Regions from separate parts of the Homo sapiens genome. Here all the other regions are linked to region 5. Evidence: fine-mapped expression QTL. A gene starts in region 5. Each other region holds a variant in brackets. All regions are shown on one strand. Distances are between the middles of the regions.

Region 1 (5,104 bases), 90 kb before region 5:
GCCATGTGCCCACTTTCATACAGCTTTTGCCATGCACTGGGTCCCTTGGTGTAAGAAGAGGTGATACGGAATCCTAGGAAGGTAAATCAGATCCTTTGTGAGTTCTCAGACGGTGGTGCTGGTCAATGCACTGTTGGTGGGAAAGTCAACGAGGAGAAGCGGGGCCAAACGGCCTGAACTGTGAAGGCCTGAAGGGATAAGGCCAGGTGTCAACAGCGCATATTTCAAAAAAAGAAGTTCGAACTCAAGAAAATTTTCCCGGCCGCACACTGTGGCTCACGCTCGTAATCCCAGCACTTTGGGAGGCCGAGGCGGGGGGATCGCGAGGTCAGGAGATCGAGACTCATCCCGGCTAACACGGTGAAACCCCGTCTCTACTAAAAAAAAATTCAAAAAATTAGCCGGGGGTGGCGGCAGGCCCCTGTAGTCCCAGCTACTCGCGAGGCTGAGGCAGGAGAATGGTGTGAACCGGGGAGGCAGAGCTTGCAGTGAGCCGAGATCGAGCCACTGCACTCCAGCCTGGGCAACAGAGCGAGAGTCCATCTCAAAAAAAAAAAAAAAAAAAAGAAAAGAAAAGAAAAGAAAAAGAAAGAAAGAAAGGAAGGAAGGAAGAAAGAAAGAAAGTGAAAAAAAAGAAAAAAAAAATTTCCTGAGATGTCCTAGGCCATACAAGCACTTTTGGGGTGGGGCCCCTGGAAAAACAACATGACTTTCCACCTCTGTTAAAAGCCAAAGCCTCTGTTTTCCGTGCAGGATCGTGATCAGTTTACATACATTGTCTCTATTGATTCTTTCAGCAACTCTTTGGGATACACGTCCTCATTGTGCAAATGGGAGAATTGTTTCCTGTAAAGCTAAGTAACTAGCGTGTGATCGCAGGGCTGAGAGGTGGAGGTGTCTGTGAACAGGGCTGCTGCTTTCCGTGATCCGTGCTCTTTCTGCAATGAAGTTTGGCCGATACACGGCAAGTCGGCCACCACTGACTGCTCCGGGGCTCCTGGCAGACATTATTAATCAATCACAGCTTCTTTTCCCTCCGAGTCTGGACTTAGCTTTACCATCCTCTGCAAAACAGCCCTCGGGCAGCCACTATTAACCATAACTGGCACATCAGATGAAAAATCCTCTGCCATCCCAGGATCACACACGAGTCTGTCTCCCTCTATCTGAACTGGCATGTCCTGAATCTGCCTTTAAGCCAACAGAAGAGTCCAAGTCAATGCAAAAGACCGCTGTAGAGGATGTAGCCATTTCTTGCCAGAGGCCTAAATGAGGTGTGGTTTTAAGAGCCCGGGGAACAGTGGGCCAGTTGAAGACGAACGGACAAGTCAGGAAACTCAAAGAAGGCAGGAGACCAGGGTCCCAGCCCCCTGTCTGCTTCATCACCAGAACCGGCCAATCAGTGCCAGTAATTGGAAGGGGCACATGACCTGGGCTGGGCCAACCATAATGAATCCTGGGGCTTTGGTTGGCGTTTCGGGAATGAGGTGGGTGACTGAGCTGCAGAATGTCCACTAGGGGCTGCTGCGCCATCCTGTCACCACGAGGGGAACGAGGGGAGCATCTGACTGAGAACGGAGTCAATAGCAGGGTGAGCAAAGCCAAGGGACGGAGCAAGACCGATTCTTGGTGGCATAGCCTGCGCTCCTGAATGCAGCCATGTCTACAGTCAGCTCCCGCTGCTCTTTTTTTTTTTCTTAAGTCAGTTTGAGGTTTTATTTTGTTGTTGTTAATTGCTAATGAAAAAGTCCTTGATACTGTCATCTATTTGTCTCCCATAACTGTTCTTTGCCTTAATTTTCATTAAAAATTATGCCCTTGGCCCAGTGCAGTGGCTCACACCTGTTATCCCAGCACTTTGGGATGCTGAGGAGGGATGATTGTTTTTGAGGCCAGGGGTTTGAGACCAGCTTGGGCAACATAGTGAGGCCTGTCTCTACAAAAAGTACACACACACACACACACACACACACACACACACACAATTAGCCAGGTGTGGTGGCACACATCTGTAGGCCCAGCTGCTTGGGATGCTGAAACTGGAGGATTGCTCAAGCTCAGGAGGTCAAGGTTGCAGTGCGCCATCATTATGTTGTTGCATTCCAGCCTGGGTGACAGAGCCAGACCCTGTCTCAAGAAAATAAAAAAATGCCCTTCATCATTGTGGACTGAGCATCTCCCCCTTATCTTTACCCAAATTATTACCCCCTTCTCTGCTCTTCCTGCTGCATGCCAGCCTAAAGGACCTCCTGGGCTACCTGCTCCAGCCACCCCCACCGCCACTTCAGGTTTATGACAGGAAGCCACCAGGTGAGCCTCTCAGTGTCTTTTAGAAAACCTCCTTCTATGTCAGGAACTTTGTATTTATTACCCCATGTTCCCTATGAAGAAATCATGGCATAA[G/A]CTCCTCTGAGAGAGCAGTGCCAGGAAAATGTAGGTGCCATTATTATCCCATTTTCACAGTGGGAAGCTGGGGCCCTGAGAGATTACGTTTTTTGTCTAAGGTCATGAAGTTGTTCTGTGGGGCCAGGATTTAAACCCAGAGTTTCACCATTGCAGTATCCTGTCCCATTCAGTGAGGGGCCACCATCGCTGTAGTCAAGCAACCACTCCAGCGGGCTGACGTGTGATGGCCTTTTTGTCGCTGACCACCCGCCCTTCCCGCCTTCCCATCTTCCATCTACCCCAAATCTTCTTTATAAGGAGTCATCTACAGCTGGAGAAGAGGGAGGGTGGTCATGTTCAGCCCCTGTGCTCTCAAATGCAGGCGTGAAAACAGTCACCTGGGATGACTTGAAGTGAACTTGCTCCACAGTTATCTTTTTCAGCACACTTGGCTTCAGAATCAGCAAAACCTGGTGCAATAAAACCTGGGTCAATCTGCACTTTACTATCCTGCTATCTCTGTTAACAACCATTTGACAGTCCTACCTGGGAGGTGTGGCTGAGAGGAATCGTGAACCTGGAGTTAAGACATATATCCCAGGCCTGGCCTATGGACAACTTCTGGCCGCTTTTTCTCTTTCCTCCGCTGATCATCACTTTCTACATCTGTAAAATTGGGAGGTGGAGAGGTGGGGTCTGATAAGAGTTTTATTTCCCAAAGAATTTTCCATAAATTGAAAAAGAAAGAAAACACAGAAGGCTTCCCCCTCCTGGGCCAGTAATTTTGGGAATACGGTGTAGAACAAAGTTAAACAAAAGTATATTTCCTACAGGACTTCTTGGAAACCTCAGTCTGCCCTTATGCGTTGTGGGTCCTAACAGGGAGGTAGACCACGTAGCACTTCCCACACTTCCGCAACACAGGAAACCTTCCCGGGTACAGTATCCTGTGGCTGTGTGGTGTGAAAAAGACTTTGGGAAAAGTTAGATGCGGTCATCTGTAGGATCCCTTTCAGCTCTGAGAAGTTAAAACTCAAAGTGCATTATTTTGACTTAGGGCTCTGTGAGATGCTGAACTATATGTCCTGAATGATGAACAACCACAAAAATCATGGTCAGTAAAGTTAGATGAAGTTCACTTGTAATTGTAGAATTGTAGTCGCTGTGTGGCATGGATGGTAATGACCCAACAAACAGGCCTTGGGCCTTGCTGGACAACAGGGAGCTATGCAGTAAGCCATCCTCGCAATTCCTTTTTTGGAAATCTGAGGATATACAGATGACCCTTTCCACACCCCCAAAGCCTAGGTTGAATATAAAGTCAGAAACTCATGGCTTAAGGAAGGTGCCTTAGAGACTCTGTGTTGCAAAATGAAAAAGGCTTTGAACTTTCGGAGAAGGACCAGACACAGAAAAACCAAGGTCTGTTGCTGTCCGTGTTGTCTGCAGGAAAGACAAAAAGCAAAATGAGCTAACAAGCATCTTTGTGAATCCTCCTGAGGAAGAAATCAGTTCCACAGCAGCCCTGATTACTAATTATAAAAATGTGCATAATGTCATTGACACTCTACTTGGGGAGTTTTCTTTATTGCTTTATTTTGGTGAGTACAGAAAGTACCCATAGAAGAGAAATTAATGGATTCACTCTTGACTGAAGTCCTCCAAGTCAATTTTCACTCAAAATTGAATTTTCCCATGAGAGTTCCCAGGAAGGAGAGGGGTATAGGGCAAAGAGTGTGGCTTTGGAGTCAGACATTTATTCAACAAATGTGTATCTCAGTGGCCACTACGTGCCAACCACTGAGAATACAGCAGCAAACAGGAGTCAGAAATCCCAGCTGGGTGCAGTGGCTTACGCCAATAATCTCAGCACTTTGGGAGGCTGAGGTGGGAGGATCACTTGAGTCCAGGAGTTCAAGGCCAGCCTGGGCAACATAGTGAGCTCCCATCTCTACAAAAAATTTTAAAAATTAACCAGGTGTGTTGGTTCATACCTGTAGTCCTAGCTACTTGGGAGGTTGAGGCTGAGGCGTGAAGCTTGCTTAAGCCCAGGAGTTTGAGGCTACACTGAGCTGTGGTCGTGCCACTGCACTTTAGCCTGGGCCACAGAGCTAGACCTTGTCTAAAATTTTTTTTTTTAAAAGTCTCTATCCTAATAGAGCTGCCACCCTGGCTCTGTTGCTCATCAGCTGTGTGAGCTTAGACAAGTCACTTGATCTCTCTGAGCCTTAGCTCGTTACAGCATGGTCACAGGATTGTTGGGAAAGCTAAATGTCAGATCTTATTTGTAGCATGTCTGGCCCAGGGCCTGGCACATAACCAGCCTTCTAGAAATGGTAGTGGGAATTCCGACTCTTGTAGCCAGAGGAGGAAAAGGGAGTTTAGATGGTTTCAGAGGGCTTCTCTCCGAAGGCTGAGCCTTTAAGGGAGGTATAGGATGAGCAGGGGCATCTGAGAACAACAGTATACCTCCATGAATAAAGCCTCGCTTTTGCTCTCTGCACCTCACCTGACCCTCCACTCTCTCCCGGGTTCACCAGCATAGACAGGTGCTGGGCTGCTGACCCCTAGGCCCCAGGCCCATCCAGTTGTCTGTGTTTTCACACAGAGCCAGCTTCCGAGTCACAAGGTCAACCCCACCTGCCCTGGCCTCCTGGGTCCCCTCCAAGGTTGCAGACATGCCTCCATCCCAGCCTGGGGCAGGCATCCCTGCCAGGCA
Region 2 (5,104 bases), 48 kb before region 5:
AGTGAGCAAGGGCCTGAGCTTGGATACCAAGCTAAGGAGTTGGAATTTTATTCTGAGTGCTATGAGTTGCTGCTGGAAGGTTTACTCCGGTGTTCTTATTAAATCCCAGTAGATGGGCAAGCAGACCACAGTGGTAATTCCTGCCCTACTGAAAGAACACTGAACTCAAGGAGTCTGGTTAGGCATATTAGATAACTCAAGATTTTGGAGAGTCCTGGAAAAGAGTCTCTAGATGCTTAGGGACCAAAAAATAGCAGAGAACAGAAAGTCACCCATATTTCTGCCATCCAGAAATAGCCACCATGAAATAGTGGTCTGTTTCCTTCTAGTCTGTTTTTTATATAGCAGAAAGCATACTGTAAAATCAACTTTGCATGAGTAACATTACATCATATATCGTTTTTCTTTATCTTAAAGGATGACTCAATTATATTTTGTTGTGTGGCTCTGCCATAAGTTACTTAACAATTATCTCATGGTTGGACATTCAGATTATTGTTAGATGCTTTTGAATACTATGAACATCCTTTTGATTCAGAGTTTTTGTGTTTCCTTTATCCCCCTTTCCCTTTTAACTCCTCTACCTTTCTCTTCAAACGGAAATAAAAGCTGTGCTTTTTAACCAACTAGAAAAGTTTGTGATGCCTCTGAAGTATCCTCCTACGTGCATTTTTTTAGATTAGTAGAAATTGAAGTGTTTAGCATCTTTGCCTATTATTAGAGGGCTAACTACCATTGTAAGATCCAGAAATCTTGATTTTAGGGGCACCCTCCTCAAACTGTCAAATCTTAAGCTTTATGCAACCTCTGGCCTTGGAGTAGGCAATCTGTTCTCAGATTTGAAAAAATTAATTTTGAAATAATTTGTACTTCAAAATTTTTCCTTATTTTTTGGTTTCCATACAATGTTTAAAAATGGGAATGCATAAATTCCTTTTTTATAAAACATTTAAAGAAACAACGGAATCAATGATCTAACATTAAAATAAATGCTCCTTTGTTATGAATTTTATTAACATTTAATCATGATTTCATTTAGATCAGAAGGGAGAGTCTTTTTTCCCTCATGCAAAAGTATATTCTTGTGGAATATAAATACCCATCCAGAGAGTCAGCAAGACAAACAATGAAAAGACTGAATTATTAAATAATTTTATATTTTAGGTTAATATTGCAATCCCTTTTGGAACCTCAATAAAAGGTAGAGTATTTTTATTTTCTAAAATTAATTGAAGCAGAGTCATGCAAAGACAAAAGATTTATTTCAGATTCAAGATAATTTGTGTGAATATATTTGCAAAATAGAAAACTATCCTTCCCTGCCATATTATTTGTTAAAACTAATCTATTAATATAATTATTATATGTAAATAAACCATAATTTTAGATACCCCAATTTGACTAAAACCAGCAGCTTATGCATTTTTTATTTCCCTTTAACAAAAAAATAATTACTTTAAGAAAATACTTTTGAATTATTGCTGTCTTTTTCCAACTGTAAGTTTGCTGAGGTGGTTGGTATATGAGTGCCATTTGGGTTACATTGGAAAGGTTTCAGAGCAGTATGTGTTTTGAGCAGTTTGGTCTTGAAGGTTGGCAGAAATGTAGATTAATAGTAATGATGTTGTGGTAAAACTTGGACATGTTTATGTACTTAACATTTTACTTAGGAGTACATTATCCCTAAGACAATTAATTTTGGCAGATAATAAATAAGGTGCTAATTAATGGATGTTGTATTTTCCTGGCAGGAGGTTAGCTGACATTTAAGATCTGGAAGTTAGGTTTTATTTGAGTCCTATGGTATTTTCTGTAGTCATAGGAGAAGTAAAGTGCTGATAAAGGAAGATGGTTTTTACTGTGAATATAGACTAGCCGCAGGTGGGAAGAAGCTGAGAGCTGGTTGCTGACCAGACAGGGGATGGTGAACCAGTGATGGAGATGGGGTTTGGAGACAGGTCATAGAGCCGTTTTATGCCCCTGCCCATAAGCTGCACTGCCTCCACCTTTCCTTCCACCCCTCACCTTATGTTCTGTGTTGTCACCTAGATGCCTTTGAAGATGAGAAACCCCCAAAGAAGAGCCTTCTCTCCAAAGTTTCACAAGGAAAGAGGAAAAGAGGCTGCAGTCATCCTGGGGGTTCAGCAGATGGTCCAGCAAAAAAGAAAGTGGCCAAGGTGACTGTTAAATCTGAAAACCTCAAGGTTATAAAGGATGAAGCCCTCAGCGATGGGGATGACCTCAGGTGAGATGTCTGCAAAGCTTTGTCTCGGGTCTTGATTTTTCTCATCAGAGAATTGTGAATAATGAAAACCTCTATTCTTACTTGTCACTGGGGTCCATGGAAGATTGGATCTTTAAATTCTTCTAGGTACAACTCAGACCGGTAAGAGCTGGAAACTTTTCAGATAAGAACAGTGACAGCATGCAGTAAGTGATTTATTCATGCTTCCACAGCTGGACAGTGGCAAAAGCAGGAGAACCCAGGTCTTCTGACTCCTGGTCCAGTGCTCTTTCTACTACACAAAAATATTAGATGTATACAAAATATTTACCTGCCATTCCAGCTTTATCTCATACTACTGTCCTCAAGCACGCTCTTCTCCGGCCCACCTGAGCTTCTCATCATTCACTGAACACATTCTCCTACTTTCTACACCTGCATTGTGCTCATGGTATTCCCTCTACCTGGAGTGCTTGCTGGCTTCCATCTTGAAGATGCAGATCTGAAACCACCTACTCCAGAGGCTTCACTGATTCTTCCCCCTTCTCTCCTCTGACTTCCTGTAGCGCTTCTAGGGAGTGTGATATGTCTGCCAGTTATTGTTACCATGCCACATACCCAGGCTTACTACCCTGTGACCTCTCAGAGGGCTGGAACCATGTGGGGTTC[C/A]TTTTCATATGCCCTGTAGCATCCATTGCAGGCCCTTTTATTTGGCAGAAACTGAACAAGTATTTTTGCAATGAATGAGCATTTATATTAATATGTTGTGAACAGTGATTATGAGCCCAGGGAACACTTGATTTTCTGCCTCCTAAGAAAGTTGAGGGGTGGGGAGAAGAGGAAGAACAGAGGGATAGTTTTTCATTTGCTTCATAAACAAATCCTCACTGCCAGTATCAGCTTTTCCAGCAGCCTCTAGTCCTGGGATGGGAGAGTAGTCCAGTAGAGGGCACAGGAAGGGACACGGGACAGCATGATGATTTTCCGCCATGATCCATCTCTTCTCCTTTTCTCTAGACTTCCCTTCCCGTCCCGCCCCGTCCCGTCCCCATCCCGGTCCCGTCCTTAATGGAGTCTCGCTCTGTTGCCCAGGCTGGAGTCTAGTGATGCAATCTTGGCTCACTGCAACCTCCGCCTCCCAGGTTCAAGTGAGCCTCCTGAGTAGCTGGGACTGTAGGTGCCCACCACCACGCCCAGCTAATTTTTGTATTTTTAGTAGAAACAGGGTTCCACCATGTTGGTGTCGAACTCCTGACCTCAGGTGATCTGCCCTGCTCAGCCTCCCAAAGTGCTGGGCTTACAGGCGTGAGCCATTGCGCCTGGCCTTCCCTAGACTTTTCTGAAGAATACCTCTGAACTTACTGCTTTCCAGTTGCCTCCCCTCACTAGTTGAATTCTATCTCCAGAGACATATACATAGAGATAGGCCACGATACTGCCAAGGAAAGCTCTGGGTCCCCCTTTCCCTCTCCCCTGAGCATTGACTGTGGTCATTTCTGCTATGTTCATTCTAAGGGGAAATTTTTATTGCTGGTGTTTTGAGAGAAAGTGGTACTCTAAAAAAAGAGTGTATTATTAGAGCTCAAGATTGATGATTGGTTATTTTAAATGTTTATACCAAAATCCTAGATAATATTCTCACTTGGTACCAAGTGCCAAAGTTTACACAAGTTAAAAGTAACTGGATACTCTAGACACATTTTATATATGAATTTGCAGAAATATATTACGTATCAGCAAGTACTTAGCCTTGAGCCATTGTTTAGCCAGCTACTTATCTATGTTATTATCTACTTAGCTAGCTAGCTGTCTATGTCTCTTGTTATTTATGACTCACCTATGTGTAGTTACATCCCTGCTTGAAGTTAGAATGCTATGAATTTCAGTCTCCTTACATCATATTTCTTAAAGATGGAAAAGAAGTCTGAGTAGGCTTATAGTAGGATATATAAATGGAGATTTTATTCTGTTCTTTCTGGCCTCCAACTGCACATATATCACACAGATATCACAGTTCTGGAACTCATTATTATTTTGGTGTCTTCTAATTTTTCCTTGTCATGTCCAGGCACAGCTATGTTTTCTTTCACACGATCTAGATTGTAGGTTTTTTAACAGCACATCTGGTAGTAATTAGACAGATGATCAGAGCACATCTTGATGAGATTTGGAACACATGTTGATGGAGGAAGTGAGGCTCAGAGCTTACTAATCATCTTTAAATAGTTGCAACAGATTCTCAATAAATAGGAGGGGTTTTAAAAATTCCATTTAGCTTGAATGGAACACTAGGATGTCTGAGTCTTCTTCATCTTCCTTCCTGTGGTCTTTACACAGGGACTTTCCAAGTGACCTCAAGAAGGCACACCATCTGAAGAGAGGGGCTACCATGAATGAAGACAGCAATGAAGAAGAGGAAGAAAGTGAAAATGATTGGGAAGAGGTTGAAGGTGAAACATCTTTCTTTGTTTTCAGAACTGTTTGGTTCTGTTTGTTTTTTTGTTTGATTCTGTTTGGAGTCAGATCACTAATTGCAATCCTTTTGTTTTCTTTTGAGCTAATTAGACCACAGATAAGGTTGTACTAGGGACTTGCTTTGATATATATGGAAAAACTCATGGCCAAGTTACCAAAGAAGGCTGTTTACTCTCTTCCTCTGGTGACTGTCAATGGGGTAGATATAAATAGAGAGGCAGCACTATTTAGGAGAAGGAGCACAGGCTTTGAAAGTAGTTAGAATTGGGTTCAGTGCTCAACTTTGCCACTTAGGTGGCAGTGTGAGTGAGTAATTTAATCTTGAGCAAGTAACTTCACCTCTCTGAACTGAGTTTTCTCATTGGTAACACTCTGTAAACACTGAATGTTTAGTGTGAGCCATTC
Region 3 (5,091 bases), 41 kb before region 5:
GATTTTTAAAAATGCTTGTTGATAGAACTTAGTGAGCCTGTGCTGGGTGACGTGAGAGAAAGTACAGCCTTCTCTCGATCTCTTCTGCCTGTGAAGCCAGTGGAGATAGAGATTGAAACGCCAGAGCAGGCGAAGACAAGAGAAAGAAGGTAAGCTTAGGCCCTTGCTTCTAGGCTCCTGTCACATGCAGTAGGCAACAGCTGCTGCTTAGGAGGACTTTGGAGAAACTTGTAGGGGACCAGGACTGAGTATCAAAGTGGTCGAGAACCTTGGGTCAGGAACCTGATTTACCTTTAGAGACTTGAATGAGACACCTTCGTGTCCTGGCTGGGGCTGGTGAGGGATGAGGAGAGGGAACTCCTGTGTGCCAAGGATTGAGCAGGTCATCCGTTATCTTACCTAATCCTTAGAACAGTGTTGTGAATGAGGAGCTAAGTAACGTTCAGACGCTAAGTAACGTTTCAAGAGTCACTCAGCCAGTAATGGAAGAGCTGAGACCTAATCCTTCTCATTGACTTGGCATTCACATTTTCCTCACCATGTCATGCTGCAGGACTTGAGGCAGTGCCCGCCGTGGTAGGGAGCCCCTATCCTTCCCAGCATCCCGGAGTACCTCTGCAGCCTCTGATGGCTTGGGAATTCCAATGTGCGATGGGCACATTACTAGGCACAGAAGAGGGAGATAATACAAATCATTCAAGAAGTGTCAAGTTGTCTTGAAGATTAATGGGATACAGACTGAAAAAGAGATTTTACACTAGAACAGTGTCACATAAATGATGGTGTGTTAATTTAACATTAATAAAGGTAATGGTTGCTAAGGAGAGAGTCAGTAGTCGGAAGAGTTGGACAGCCAGAGAAGACTTCCTGGAAGAAGTGAGCTTTGAGGCATGTAGGTGAGGTGTGATCTGCTGCTGGTTGAGAGGAGGGTTGTCTGGGTACAGAATGTCCCAGGCCGAGGTTTGCTGGTGAGAAGGAGCCAAAGAGCCTGCAGGAAATAGCTGGCTTGCAGACGGACTTGAGTAGCACAGCCTTGTGTAGGGAAACAGGGAGAGTGATTCACTGTCATCCGAGGAGAAGGAATTGCCTGGGGGAGTGGAGTCTGGTTTCAGTTCCCCCCTTCATTCCCAGATTTTTCACTATTTGTTGCAGTGAAAAGATAAAACTGGAGTTTGAGACATATCTTCGGAGGGCGATGAAACGTTTCAATAAAGGGGTCCATGAGGACACACACAAGGTAAGGGCAAGGAATGATGGGGAAGGACTTTTCCTTGTCGGTGCAAAGAGCTTGTGCTCACCGAGGCTTTATTTCTGGCTTTGCTGCTCTGTGGCCATGGCAAGTTTCTTACTCTCTCTGAGCCTTTGCATCCTCATCTGGGAGGTGGGGGTAGTAATAGTGTCTGTCTTGGAGGGTGGTTGTGTATTATAGGTAAGGTAACTTGCAGCACAATGCCTGGCATGCAGCAGAGGCTAAATAAAGAGCACTTGCCTTCCATCTCTCCTTTCAGCCATTTAATGTCATTAATTCTAATCCCAGCTGCAGGCACTGGCTTTTGACTTTAGCTGACAGTTATTGAACACTTGCACACACCTAGCAAGGTGCTTGGCATGGTGGGGATAGAGACTTGGATAAAGCTTATTTCCTACAATTGAGGAGTATCTGATCTCTAGATGGAACAAGGACTTCCAAACAGAGAAACTCAAGGCTATGCCTGGAACAGTGAAAGAGATCAGCGTGGCTCTGTGGAGCTGGGGAAGGCTTTATGTAGGGGAAAGGATTAGAGCCAGGTCTAGGAGAAAAAGTTGAAGACTCTAGCCAAGTTGTGGAGGGGACGGCGAGGTGCCCAGCTCACCTGCGTGTGTGGAGTATGTAGGTGTTGGGGGGTGGGGGTGAAGGGAGGGTGGGCTTTGGTTTCCCTTTGATGGATGGTGGGCTGCCTGAGAGGATAGTGATGGGATGGGTGAGTTGCTTTGTGTGCAGCTACTGCAGAAATCTAGAGGTGCAAGGATGGTGACGAGGTTAGAGAGGGGTCGCCTCCCTCACCCAGGCCTGGGGCACGAAACGAGACAGCTGTGTGCCTTTCACCTCTTGTTGGGTGCTGGAGGTGAAAGAAAGGGAAGATGACTCTCAGGTTTGAGGCCTGAGTGAGGAGAGAGAGGCAGCACTATTGATTAAAATAGGGAGGCTGTTAGTCGGGGGGGAGGAAGCCAATGTTGAAGGGAAAATGACACAAAGCAGTATGTGAAAAGAGGTGAAGAGGTCATATAATCATTTCAGTAGGTGGATGAAGGGTGGGTTTTGGGGTCAGAGGAAGGGCAAAGATGTGGAGCCTGTGACAGAGAAGGTTGGGCTCAAACACCCAGAGAGGTGGCGAGAGCA[G/A]CCCAGTGAGCCCAGTGGGGTGCATCCCGCCGGCTTCCACAGGCTTCCAGCAGTCTCTCCAGCTCCACTCCACTTGCCTTTTCTTCTGATCTCGTGGAGCAAACCCCAGACATGGCAGCATTTCATCCAGAAATCTTTCAGTATGTATCTCTGAAAGACAAGACCAAAACAAAAACAGTTTGTATTTTGAAAACAAAGCAATTTGTATTTTGAAGCTTTGAGGTTTGATGATTCCTTTGAAGGAATGAGTATACAGAGAGAAAAAGAGAGGGTCAAAGACAAGCTTGGGAAGTGGCCAATGCTAGTGTTTTTACTTTCTTATATGTAGAAATGGCAACACATATTTCTTGTCCACAGCATGTCTTGACTTTGGCAGCAAAAATTCCTCCTGGTGTCCGGCCTTCCTTCCATGCTGCCCCTTCCTCCTTTCCTCTTCACAGGTTCACCTTCTCTGCCTGCTAGCAAATGGCTTCTATCGAAATAACATCTGCAGCCAGCCAGATCTGCATGCTATTGGCCTGTCCATCATCCCAGCCCGCTTTACCAGAGTGCTGCCTCGAGATGTGGACACCTACTACCTCTCAAACCTGGTGAAGTGGTAAGGCCCTCCGCTTGTCCTGCAGAGCTGGGGAGTGTAGGATTTGTGTTTCTCTCAGAGGCTGGGTTCAGGTCACTTCCACAGACCTTCCCTGAGGCGGTAACTATGTATCAGGTGGTGGGCATGGCATTGAAGATAGAGAAATGCCAGGTATGATCTTGCCCTGGTAGAGCTGCCAGACTGGTGGGGAGACAAATACATACCAGGTAATTACAGGATGGCATGAGGAGTGCCCTGGAAGGGGTGTTCTGGGGACTGCAGGCTCACATAGCAGGGGCGCTTTTCTCAGCTGGGAGGTCTGGGAAGGCTCCCCAAGGAGGTAAAGTCTGAGCTGGGTCTGCAGTGATGATAGGAGTTAGCTAGACGGGCTGGGGAAAGTAGGACAGAGGCAGGCGGGTCTCACGATTCACTCCCTCTTTTTATTTTCTTGGCTGGAAATGAAAATTCCCCTTTGCCCTGACCTCTGACACAAGGAATGCCTGCTTTCTCCCCAGGTTCATTGGAACATTTACAGTTAATGCAGAACTTTCAGCCAGTGAACAAGATAACCTGCAGACTACATTGGAAAGGAGATTTGCTATTTACTCTGCTCGAGATGATGAGGAATTGGTCCATGTAAGTGATCCTCCCGGATCACTGTTTTTTATCAGTACTGTTAACTAATGATAATGGCAGCCATGTGCCAGATGCCATTCCAGGTGTGTTACCGACACTACCTTATTCAGTCCTCATAATGACGTTGATAGCTGCTGAAGCCCAGAATAGCTACATGATGCCTCTAAGGTCTTTTCCTTGGTGAGCCTGAGAATCGAGATTGGGATCAGAGTCTGAGTGGAGGGCCTGTATGCTTTCCTCCCTATCGCCTCTAGTTGTGGTGTACCAAAAAGCCCGTAGTTTTTGGTCAGATGTGCTAGAAATATTTTCATTAATTTTTCCAATTTTGTCTTCAGAAGTCCCAAGGAAATGTTTTTTCAAATTGGATGCTGAAGTCCTTGAGAATGTGTTTTTGTATCTCACATTTGGGTGTTGACACTGGCAGGCAGCAGTGCAGTGAGGAGGGTTCTGTCCATAAAAAGGAATCGTGATGGCAGAGTGCTCCAGGGACAGGCAGGCTTTATCAAATGCCTACAGGCACCTGTAGGTAAGGCTCTGTCTGAATAAAACAAAAACAGAGATGGAAATGTGGTTTTATCCCTAGAAGATTCCTATTAATCCATACAGTTCAATCTGGGAGTCCCAGATTCTCTGGAGAAAAAGATGGTTGACATCTTTAGTTCTCTTCTTCCGTGTTGGCTTTAACAAGTCTAAGATATTTGGCAAGGCTGATAATTATGTTATAATGTGCTGCCAATTTTTTTGTTTGTTTGTTTTTGTTTTTTGAGACAGAGTCTCTCTCTGCCGCCTAGGCTGGAGTGCAGTGGTGCAATCTCAGCTCACTGCAACCTCCACCTCCTGGGTTCAAGTGATTCTCATGCCTCAGCCTCGCGAGTAGCTGGGATTACAGGTGCCCACCACCATGCCTGGCTGATTTTTGTATTTTTAGTAGAGATGGGGTTTCACCCTTCACCCTGTTGGCCAGGCTGGTAACTCATTAATATTTTAGTATTGTCCTCCCAGACTTTGTTCCTGTGTATGTGTGTACGTATGTATTTGTTTTGTTTATTTGTTTAAGCAAAATAGGATCACACAGCTTTTAAAGAGGGGGTACAATTCAGTGACCATTTAGTACATTTACAATGTTGTGCAACTACCACCTCTATTTCCAAAATGTTTTTGTCACCCCCAAGGGAAACCCTGTATATACGCATTAAACTCCTCATTGTTACCCCCCTGTCCCTGCTCGTGGCAACCACCAATCTGTCTTGTGTCTCTGTGGATTTACCTATTTAGGATATTTAGTATAAAAGAAATTATACACTATGTGGCCTTTTCTGCCTGTCTTTTGCTTAGTATAATGTTTTCAAGATTCATCTGCATTTTAGCATGTATCAGTATTTCATTAATATTTATAGCTGAATAATATTCCATTACATGTTTATACATTTTCTCTATCCATTTATCCATTGGCAGACATTTAGTTAGTTTCCACCTTGTGGCTGTTGTGAAGAGTGTT
Region 4 (5,104 bases), 120 kb after region 5:
TTCAGACTACACTATAAGGCTACAGTAAGCAAACAGCATGGTACTGGTACAAAATCAGACACACAGACCAAAGGAACAGAATAGAAAACTCAGAAATAAAGCCACACAACTGTAAGAATCTGATCTACAAGGCTGACAAAAACAAGCAATAGGGAAAGAACTCCCCATTCAATAAATGGTGCTGGGGTATCTGGCTAGCCATATGCAGAAGAATGAAACAAGATCCTTATCTTTCACCATATAAAAAAATTAACTCATGATGGATTAAAGATTTAAATCTAAGACCTCAAACTATAAAAATCCTAGAAGAAAACCTAGGAAATGTCACTCTGGACATTGGCTTTGGCAAAGAGTTTTTGTCTAAGTCTCCAAAAGCAATTGCAACAAAACCAAAAATTGACAAGTGGGACCTAGTTAAACCAAAGACCTTCTGCAAAGCAAAAGAAACTATCAACAGAGTAAACAGACAACCTACAGAATGGGAGAAAATATTCCAAACTGTGTATCCAATAAAGGTCTAATATCCAAAATCTATAAGAAATTTTAACAAATCAAGCAAAATGCAAATAACCTCATTAAAAACTGGGCAAAGGACATGAACGGACATGTTTCAAAAGAAGCCATACGTAAGTGGCCTACAAACATATGAAAAAATACTCATTATCTCTAATCATGAGAGAAATCCAATTCAAAACCACAATGAGATACCATCTCGCACAAGTCAGAATGGCTATTGTTAACAAGTCAAAAACCAGTGGATGTGGAGAAAAGGGAATGCTTATAAACTGTTGGTGGGAATGTAAATTAGCTCAGTTACTGTGGAAAGCAGTTTGGAGATTTCTCAAAGAACGTAAAACAGACCTACCATTCAACCCAGCAATCCCATTACTGAGTATATAGCCAAAGGAATACAGATCATTATGCCAAAAAGACACATGCACTCATACGTTAACTGCCATGCTATTCACAACAACAAAGACTTGGAATCAACCTAGGTGCCCATCAGTGGTGGACTGGATAAAGAAAATGTGATGCATATACACCATGAAATGTTACACAGCTTTAAAAGAGAGTGAAATTACGTCATTTGCAGCAACACAGATGGAGCTGGAGGGCCTAATCCTAAGCAAATTAACACAGGAACAGAAAACCAAATACCGCACATTCTCACTTACAAGTGGGAGCTAAACATGGAGCACACATGGACATAAACATGGGAAGAGTAGACACTAAGGACTGCTAGAGGGAGGGAAGTAGGGAGAGAGGCATGACTTGGTAAACTACACATTAGGTACTATGCTCACTACCTGGGTGCAATATACCTAAAACTTGCACATATATCCCCTGTATCTAAAATCTAAAATATAGGTTGAAATGTAAAAACACACAAAATACCAAAACATATGAGATGCAGTTAAAGCAGAGCTTAGATGAAATTTATAGCTGTAAATGTCTAATTAAAAAAGAAGAGATAATGATAAATCTCAAACCAGTAGTGTTCCTTTCCACCTTAAAAAAGCAGAAAAAAGAAGTGCAAAGTAAACACAAAATATTCACAAGGAAGGAAATAATATTGGAGCAAAAATACATAATATAGAAAAGAGGAGAACAGAAAAAATCCACAAAATTTTTCTCTGAAGAAATTTTTAAGATGATAAATTTTATTAGACTGGCCAAGAGAAAACAGAGAGGAATCAAATTACTAGGATTAGGGATGAAAGAGGGGTTGACACTACAAGGTCTACAGAAATAGAAAGGATTATGAAGGGGATACTATGGACAAGCACATGCCAAAAATTAGATAACTTAGATGAATGGAATTTCTATAAAAACACAAAGTACTGAAAGAGTGAACTCAAGAAAAAATAAAAAGCCTAAAGAGAGCTATAACAAGAAATGAATTTAAATTAAAACATATAACACACACACACACACACACACACACACACACACACACACACACACACACACACAAAACAACCCAGGAATGGATTGTTTCAAAGGTGAATTCTAACCAACATTTTAAAAAGATTTAAAACTAATATTCATAAACTCTTCTGAAGAAAGAAGGGGTGAACACTTCCAAACTCATTCTAAGAGGCCAGTATTACCCTGATACTAAAACTAGGCAAAGACATTATAAGAGAAGAAGACTACAGATCAATGTCTCTAATCTATATAGATGCAAAAATCATAAAAATTAAAATAGCAAACTGAAACCAGCAATGTATAACAAGGATTATACACCATGACCAATGGAAATCTATTCCAGGAATGTAAGGTATGTTCAAATATATGAAAAATCAATATAATATACCACATTAAAAGCATAAAGAAAAAAAACCTCATGATCATTTCAATAGACACAGAAAAATATTTGACAAAAATCCAACATATTTTCATAATAAAAACACAAAACAGCCAGGCGCGGTGGCTCACGCCTGTAATTCCAGCACTTTGGGTGCCTGAGGTGGGCAGATCACCTGAGGTCAGGAGTTCGAGATTAGCCTGGCCAACATGGTGAAACCCCATCTCTACTAAAAATACAAAAAGTAGCCAAGTGTGGTGGTAGGCATCTGTAATTCCAGCTACTCAGGAGGCTAAGGCAAGAGAATTGCTTGAACTCTGGAGGTGGAGGTTGCAGTGAGCTGAGATTGCACCACTGCACTCCAGACCGGGCAACAAGAGGGAGACTCAATTTCAAAAAAAGTCCGGGTGTGGTGGCTCACACCTGTAATCCCAGCACTTTGGGAGGCCAAGGCAGGCAGATCACAAGGTCAGGAGTTCGAGACCAGCCTGGTCAACATAGTGAAAAGCCATCTCTACTAAAAATGCAAAAAATTAGCCAGGCATGGTGGTGTGTGCCTGTAATCCCAGCTACTTGGGAGGCTGAGGCAGGAGAATCACGTGAACCTGAGGGCCAAGGTTGCAGTGAGCCGATATCGTGCCATTTGCACTCCAGCCTGGCGACAGTGTGAGACTATAAAAAAAAAA[C/AC]CCACACAAAACAAATTAGGAATCAAAGAAAACTGCCTTAAACTGATAAAAGTCATCTACAAAAAATGTAGAGCTAACATCATATTTAATGGTGAAAGATGGAAAGCATTCCCCCTAAAATCAAGAACAAGACAAGGATGTCAGCTCTCAACATAGCAGCATCATACTGAAAGCTCTAGCCATAGCAATTAGGGAAGGAAAAGAAATATAAGTCATCAGATTGGACAGAAAGAAATAAAATTATCTGTATTTTTAGATGACATGATTTTGTATATAGAAAATCATAGCTGGGGATGGTGGCACATACTTGTAGTTCCAGCTACTCAGGAGGCTGAGACAGGAGGGTCGCTTGAGCCCAGGAGTTCAAGGCTGTAGTGTGCTATGATCATGCCTGTGAATAGCCATTGCATTCCAGCCTGGGCAGCACAGTGAAACCCAACTCAAAAAAAAAAAACGGGAAAAAAAGAGAAAATCCTAAGAAACCCAAAAAATTATTAAAGCTGATATGAGTTCAGCCAGGTGGCAGAATACAAGACATACAAAAATCATTTATATTTCTGTACATTAGCATTAACTATTCTGAAAAAGAAATTGATAAAAAAAATCCAATTACAACACCATAAAATAGAATAAAATGCATAGGAGTAAATTTAAAGAATCCAACCATACCCAGAAACTACAAAACATTACTTTTTTTTTTTGTAACACATGTACAATGTAATAAAACATTGTGTTTTTATTATGAAATAAATTAAAGTAGATCTAAGTAAATGGAAAGACATTCCTTCATTGGTTAAATAACTTAATATTAAAATGTCAATATTCTGCAATTTGATCTATAGATTCAAATGCAATCCTTATAAAAATTCCAGTTTTTTTTTATAGATTTGACAAACTGAATCTAAAATTCATATGGAAATTCAAAGGACCCAACATAGTCCAAACAATCGTGAAAAGTAAGATGTTGGAAGATTCACAATTACAATTTCAGAACTTACTATAAGGCTACAGTCATTGAGAGAGTATGGCACTGTTTTAAGGAAAAACATACAGATCACTGAAATGGAAATATACCCATACTTCTATGCTCAACTGATTTTTGATAAAAGTGTCAAGACAATTCCATGGGTAAGAAAACATCTTTTCAGCAAATGGTGTTGTTAGAACTGAATATTCCTAAGCAAATAAGTGAAGTTAGATACCTACCTCAGACCATATACAAAATTATATTAATATGGCTTAGTGATTTAAATGTAATAAATAAAACCCTAAACATTTTAGAAGAACATGTAAGTATAAATCTTCCTGTACCAGGCAATGGCTTCTTCAAAATGACATCTTAAGCCGGGGGCAGGAGGAAAGGGAAACCAAAGGAAGAACAGATAAAGTGGACTTCATCAAAATTAAAAACTGTTTAAGTGGTACAAGTAAATTTTAGGAGTGATGTGCTGCCTCTCTGTACCATATGGAGGATTGGCTCCACTTTAATGAGTAGGGGAAAACAAATTCTCCACGCATGTAAATTCTCAAGGATTCCTTTGAAGGTTTATCATAATATAATATAAAACTCATAAGGAAATAGTAAAAGTCATTTTGTGTCACATTATGAATTTAAAATATTTTTACATAAAAAAATCAAAAACTTGTTTACCAAAGGACACTATCAGGAATATAAACAGACAACCCACAGAATGGGAGAAAATATTTGTAAATCATGTATCTGATAAGGGCTTAGTATTCAGAATTTATAATGAATTCTTGGCTGGGCACAATGGCTCATGCCTGTAATGCCAGCACTTTGGGAGAACGAGGCGGGCGGATCACGAGGTCAGGAGATCTAGACCATCCTGGCTAACACGGTGAAGCCCCGTCTCTACTAAAAATACAAAAAATTAGCCGGGTGTGGTGGCGGGCGCCTGTAGTCCCAGCTACTCAGGAGGCTGAGGCAGGAGAATGGCGTGAACCTGGGAGGTGGAGCTTGAAGTAAGCCGAGATAGCGCCACTGCACTCCAGCCTGGGCGACAGAGCGAGACTCCGTCTCAGAAATAAATAAATAAATAAATAAATTATCTTACAACTCAACAACAGTAGACAGATAACCCAATTTTTA
Region 5 (5,104 bases):
GTTGGGAGCCAGCTGCAGGCAGCAATAGGAAAATAAGGCGTGTCTTCCTCTTGGGCCTCCCCTCAGCCAGCATCAAGATAAGGGGCTCAAAGACGGCCTTGGAGGGAAGGAAGAGAGGTACAGGAGGGTGCCCCTCAGGCTAGGGGAGGGGTGAGGTGGGCAGTGACATGACAAACCCAGCCCACATTCTGAACCAAAATTCCCAGTAAACATGGAGGATCATAAAGGATCTATATATCCACACATATTTATATATACATATAGTATGTATTACATGTATACACACATTATATAAACACACACACACACGCACACACAGACGGACATCCCCAGTGACACATCCCCTCCCAGTCCTAGCACTCAGGACTTAGAAGAAATGAGCAATGAGTGGTGGGAACAGAGGCTGACACATAGGCCCTGGAAATGGACAGAACTGGATTTGATGCCTAGGTTCACCAATCGCTTGCTGTGTAAGCCTGGGTAAATTGCTCTACCTCTCTGATTCTGTTTACTCACTTATAAAGTGGAGAGGGGAATAGTACCTTCACCACAGGTACTGCTGCTGCTGTACTGATTGAGAATTTTGTTGCCTCCCTGCTCCATCCCGCTATCTTCTTCCTCACCCAGCCTAGTGGCTGCTGTAAATGTGTACTCAGCTACTGGATGAATCAAAAAATGCTTGGCAGCAGAGAATACTCAAATGCATGTATATTCCTTGGTGAGGGGTCAGGTCTCAATGTACCCAAGATGATCTCTATCCACTGGGACCATTTGTGCTACCCTGCAAGGACAGGCTTGTTTTCAAGTATTAAGTACCTACCACACATCAGGCACTGTGCTAAGCAGTCTCCCTTAAATATCACAGTAACTGATCCATGAGGCTACATAAACCTGGAGAGATGAAAGCCACACAGCTACTGGGTGGAAGAATCTGGATTGCCCCCAGGTCTCCCTAACTCCAAAGCCTGCCCTTTTCAGCATATTTCCGTGTCACAGCATGCCAAGCCGGCCACGAGAGCTTGGGCAAGTGCCTTCCCCTGCTAGGGAAGTTCCCCATCTGTAAAATATGGTGGTGGTAGTGATGGGAGCAGACAAAGAGTCCACATACTACAGACAGGCTGGTCTCCTGACTGCCCTCTCGCCTGGCCGAGCCTGAGTCTCTCCGAATACCTCTGAGGCTTTTCTAGGTACAACATTCAAGGCTTCTAACCCTCCTGTGGGCCCGAAATGTCCTGGGAGTGTGGATGATACTAACCCGAGACAAAGTGTACTAGGGCTGTGGGTGATGCACACCCTGGCCTCTCAAGGGGTGTGGGAGGCAGAGAGGACGCTTGGGGACAGAGGCGGTGTCTGGAAATAGGGTGTGACAGGCAAGGGGAGAGCTGCTAGGACACTCTACCAAAGCAGGAGGGAGGGTGTGTCTGGGGCTGGCTGGGCTCCTAAGCGGGCCCTAGAAGCACTTTCACAGAGGAGGGGAGAGGTGAGTCACCAGCTTCTCCCACACCCAGCGCCCTGGTAGGAGGCGCTGCTTGTTGAATGAATGTTGGGCTTAAATAGTTTCCCGAGAAAGGCTAGTTGCAGGGAGAAGAGGCCTTGAGGGAACAGCCCTCAGCCAGGCCTCCTCCAACCAAATCCTTGCTAGGGGGAGGAGGGGCCCCGACAGTAGAGAAATGCTCCCTCTCCCCCAACTCCTTCGCTCCCAGCCCAGCCTAAGCTTTTTGGAGCATCACAGACTCGGTTTACAGAGACTCCCTAGGGCGGAGAGCTCTCTGCCCGCCTGGACAGCCCTGTCTGTCCATTGCTGGACAGCTCCACTTGGGCTGGATCGCCTTCCTCCCTCCCAAGGGACTGGCGCCCTCTCTGAGGTCGCGTCCAGCTCTCATAATGCGCAAGTTTCAGGGCCCCAAGGTACAGGAGGGAACTGGGAATGCAAGGAGGGGCCGCGGAGAGGCGTACAAGCAGATCCCAGTACGGGAGCAACACCTCCGAGTCCGCCTCCGCACGAACGCCGAGGACGAGGCGAGCCAAGGAACACGGACAAAAGAAGCCTGGACAGGCCGCGAGATGAGCAGAGGGATGAGCTGGCGAAGGCACAGACACGGCGAGCAGAGGGAGATGCGGGCCTAGCCGCACGGAGGAGCTCCAGGCGGCGAAATGGACCTAGAGGACCCCGGGGAAAAGCCCCAGGGCGACGGGGAAGCCTGGGTGTGGCCCGGCTGGCCCGGGGATACTCACATTCGCGGCCATGGTGGGACCCGGCTCGCTGCCGCCGCCTCGCGCTGTTCAGCTAGGAAGTGGGCTGACGACTGGAGCGTGGTGTCCAGCGGCCTCTTGCCAGCCCCAGCTTCGAAAATCCGCGTGGACTCCAGGGCCAAGCGGGACTTACTGCAGTTACCTCCCCCTGTGCCCAGTGTTTCTGCGCATGCGCGCGGCGAGACGTCCTGGAAACTATACGGTCCGGGACATTGCAGTACCTCATTGATGCGCCTGCGCACTGCAAAGCTTTCGGGGAAATGTAGTTTCTACTGCCTGGAGAGCTGTCGAGGAGCGCGCGACCTGCTGGGAAATGTAGTTTCCGGCTGAGGTTGGCCTGGCCGCGGTTGCGAGGGCGCCGAGGCAGGCGCGCGGCGGGCAGGCCTGGGAGGGGGCGGGTCCGCGCGGGCTTCGGAGGAGCCCGCCCTGCCAGAGGAGAGGGAGGTCACGGCGTAAAGGTGCAGCTGCCGCCACCGCCGCTTCTGCAAGGTCTCAGGGACGGGCTGCAGCCATGTCCTATTGCCGGCAGGAAGGTAGGGAGGGCGGGCTGCCACGGAGACCGGCCTACGAGGGCCTGCGGGAGACACGCGGGCCCCGGCGCCCCGCGACCACGCCGGGCGCGGGCCACCTGAGGCGCGGCCCAGGTGCCCACCCTGGGACACTCGGAGGCGGGCCGGCTGGGGGGTCGCTACTCCTGTTTTGCGGATGAGAAAACCGAAGCTCTGGGGGGAACGGGGCTGGTCCAAGGTCACAGTGAAGCCCGAACCCTGACCTCAGAGGGGCCTGTGCGTAGGAAGTCGTAAACTAGGTCCGGTTGGGGCACGGGAAGTGCCGAGCACGTTGCGTGTGGCTCGAAACTGGGAATGTATGGTGGTTAATTATCACTACCGCTCCTGCCATACCCCACGTGTTTACATTTTGCACGCGCCTTTAAAAGGCGCGTCCCGAAAAGTTGCCACTCGGGGTAGCGTGTGCTGTGCTGGAGTGCTAGGAGTTCCACTAACGGGAATGTTTTTGAGCCCCCTGCTACCTGTCAGGCACTGTTCAAGGAAACTTGCCTGGCTTGTCTCACAGATCTCGCTGCGACCTTTGTAAGTCAGGCTCTGTTGTTGGTCACATTTTACTGAAGAGTAAAGTTAGACACAGGAGACATGGCTAAAGCCACTCAGCCAGCAAATCGTGGAGCTGGGGTTTGAGCCTGGGCATTGTGACCCCAGAAGAGCCTTATCCAATCTAGTGCCCAGTGGATTGCAGGGAGAACCCTGCCTACCTCCCACCCCAAAGTTGAGCTCCGACCACCTACTGCTTCCTTGATGTTACTCTACCCAAGAGCTCAGAAGTACCCGAGCCACAGGTCGGAGGGCCTCCCCACACACTGCCACAAACTGGCTCCTTGGCCCTGAGCTCCCACCTAACCCCTCCAGGCCCTGGTATCCAGTGTTGTAAAATGAGATGTTGGGCTTCATTGATACGGCAAATACTCATGAAGCACCTTCTCTGCGCCAGAGAAGGGGGATGGATGGTTATAAAACTACAGAGAGAGTTGGAAGTCCCCCAGAAATTCTTTGGTGAATACTCCAGCTCCGTCAGTTAATTCAAGCAATCTGAAGCCCAGAGAAGGAGGTGGCCTACCTGTAGTTACACATCCAGTTAGGAGACTAGCTCAGCCTAAAATTCTGAGCCTTTTCCCTGGTGGCGCTGTCTGCTTCTAGAACCTCTCCTCCTCTGGGTCGTAAAGCCATAAGACTCACTCTTTAATGAGTACTATTATATTTCCGCTGATTACTACTTAATGTGTGCCATAAGCAAAAGTCCTCTGCCCTCACCACTCTTGTTTTTAATTTCGAGTCTTTCTCTAATTTACTTCATTTAGCAAATAATTTTTGAGCCTTTGGGTATAATGAGGCTGTGCTGATAAACAAGACCCTCCTCTTTGAGGATTTACAGGAGGCAGTTTTCTCTGGAAAGGGGAGGCTAGGTCCATCTGCCTCCAAAACATGGAGCCCTATCTTTTCCTGCTTCAAAGATCTCTCTTAGTTCGGAGAGGAGTGAGAATTGAAAGCACTCACTTATAGGCCTTCCTTAGTATTTATCTTGTGCATACCACTGTCCCCGTAAGAAGTCCCTAACTTCCCCCCCTCCGCCCCCCACTGATCCTTTATGCTTCCCATAGGATTTTTAAAAAATGATCCCAAACTGCTTACTGTATCAGAGCTTATGTGATCTGGCCCTGTCTGCCTTTCCAGCCTGGTCTCTTCCCACCCTTTTGCTGCCCAGCCTCTAGCCTCTTGGCTATTCCCTTGGTTTGGTATATCCTGCCTTCAGCTCTTCCGTGGCTGACTCCTCATCCTTTAACATTTAGCTCCAATATCACCTCCTGACCCTTTGTGTCTTTCACATCCTGAACTGTCTGAAATGACCTTTTTTATTTTTTGCCATCTTACTTCCTGCCTGTCTTCTCGCACTAAGCTGAGAGCATCAGATGGGCTGTGGAATCCCCAGCATCTAGCACAGGGCTTGGTGTACAATGGGTGCCCACATCTTTATTGAATCATGCATTTACCTGCCCTCTGTTCTGAGTGAATCACTTGCCTGTACAAGTTTATTTCAGGGGTCCACCTGCTACCCAGCCTTCAGGTTAAACTCGTTGGTTTGGCATTCAAGGGCTCTCAGCCTCGCACCTGGGCCTTGGGCTAGCCACACTTCTCCTGTGTCAGCACCATAGTGTTTCTTTCTTAGTTTCCTCTTTCTAATGCAGAGCCTGCCAACTCCTGTTCAGTCAACAATTATAGAGCACACGTGATGTGCCAGCCATTGGGCATATAGTGGTGAGCAAGGTGACACATTCTCT

Which allele goes with the higher level. Alleles are on the strand shown, and positions count from the first base shown. SD is a standard deviation of normalised expression in the study named. Not every link is listed here.
For the expression in monocytes after LPS of the gene that starts at base 2,389 in region 5, C is the low allele of the variant in region 4 and AC is the other (moderate effect, 0.43 SD a copy in Quach 2016).

The links. PIP is the estimated chance that this variant, and not a neighbour inherited with it, causes the effect.
Region 1: its variant is fine-mapped to the expression of TMEM43 in blood mononuclear cells (TOPMed, PIP above 0.99).
Region 2: its variant is fine-mapped to the expression of TMEM43 in whole blood (TOPMed, PIP above 0.99).
Region 3: its variant is fine-mapped to the expression of TMEM43 in testis (GTEx, PIP 0.98).
Region 4: its variant is fine-mapped to the expression of TMEM43 in monocytes after LPS (Quach 2016, PIP 0.95).

What each region holds. Positions count from the first base shown.
Region 1 is chr3:14,212,763-14,217,866 of GRCh38, reverse strand. No RefSeq gene overlaps it. Among named protein-coding and RNA genes, the nearest start is that of LSM3, 36 kb to the right of the region's middle. RefSeq lists silencers at 1,324-1,403, 1,434-1,483. The variant G/A (reference allele first, on the strand shown) is at 2,404.
Region 2 is chr3:14,170,008-14,175,111 of GRCh38, reverse strand. It overlaps XPC (XPC complex subunit, DNA damage recognition and repair factor), which reads left to right. Exons shown (of 16, transcript NM_004628.5): 2 at 2,050-2,245; 3 at 4,562-4,674. Among named protein-coding and RNA genes, the nearest start is that of XPC, 6.0 kb to the left of the region's middle. The variant C/A (reference allele first, on the strand shown) is at 2,894.
Region 3 is chr3:14,163,315-14,168,405 of GRCh38, reverse strand. It overlaps XPC (XPC complex subunit, DNA damage recognition and repair factor), which reads left to right. Exons shown (of 16, transcript NM_004628.5): 4 at 26-149; 5 at 1,153-1,237; 6 at 2,821-2,978; 7 at 3,473-3,593. Among named protein-coding and RNA genes, the nearest start is that of XPC, 13 kb to the left of the region's middle. The variant G/A (reference allele first, on the strand shown) is at 2,381.
Region 4 is chr3:14,002,844-14,007,947 of GRCh38, reverse strand. It overlaps the pseudogene TPRXL. Among named protein-coding and RNA genes, the nearest start is that of CHCHD4, 120 kb to the left of the region's middle. The variant C/AC (reference allele first, on the strand shown) is at 2,995.
Region 5 is chr3:14,122,337-14,127,440 of GRCh38, reverse strand. TMEM43 (transmembrane protein 43) reads right to left here and starts at 2,389. Exons shown (of 12, transcript NM_024334.3): 1 at 2,236-2,389. The coding sequence starts at 2,247. It overlaps CHCHD4 (coiled-coil-helix-coiled-coil-helix domain containing 4), which reads left to right and starts at 2,571. Exons shown (of 3, transcript NM_001098502.2): 1 at 2,571-2,786. The coding sequence starts at 2,765. RefSeq lists enhancers at 1,755-2,044, 1,477-2,211, 2,145-2,344, 2,212-2,946, 3,715-3,814 and 1 more and silencers at 2,535-3,094, 3,105-3,154.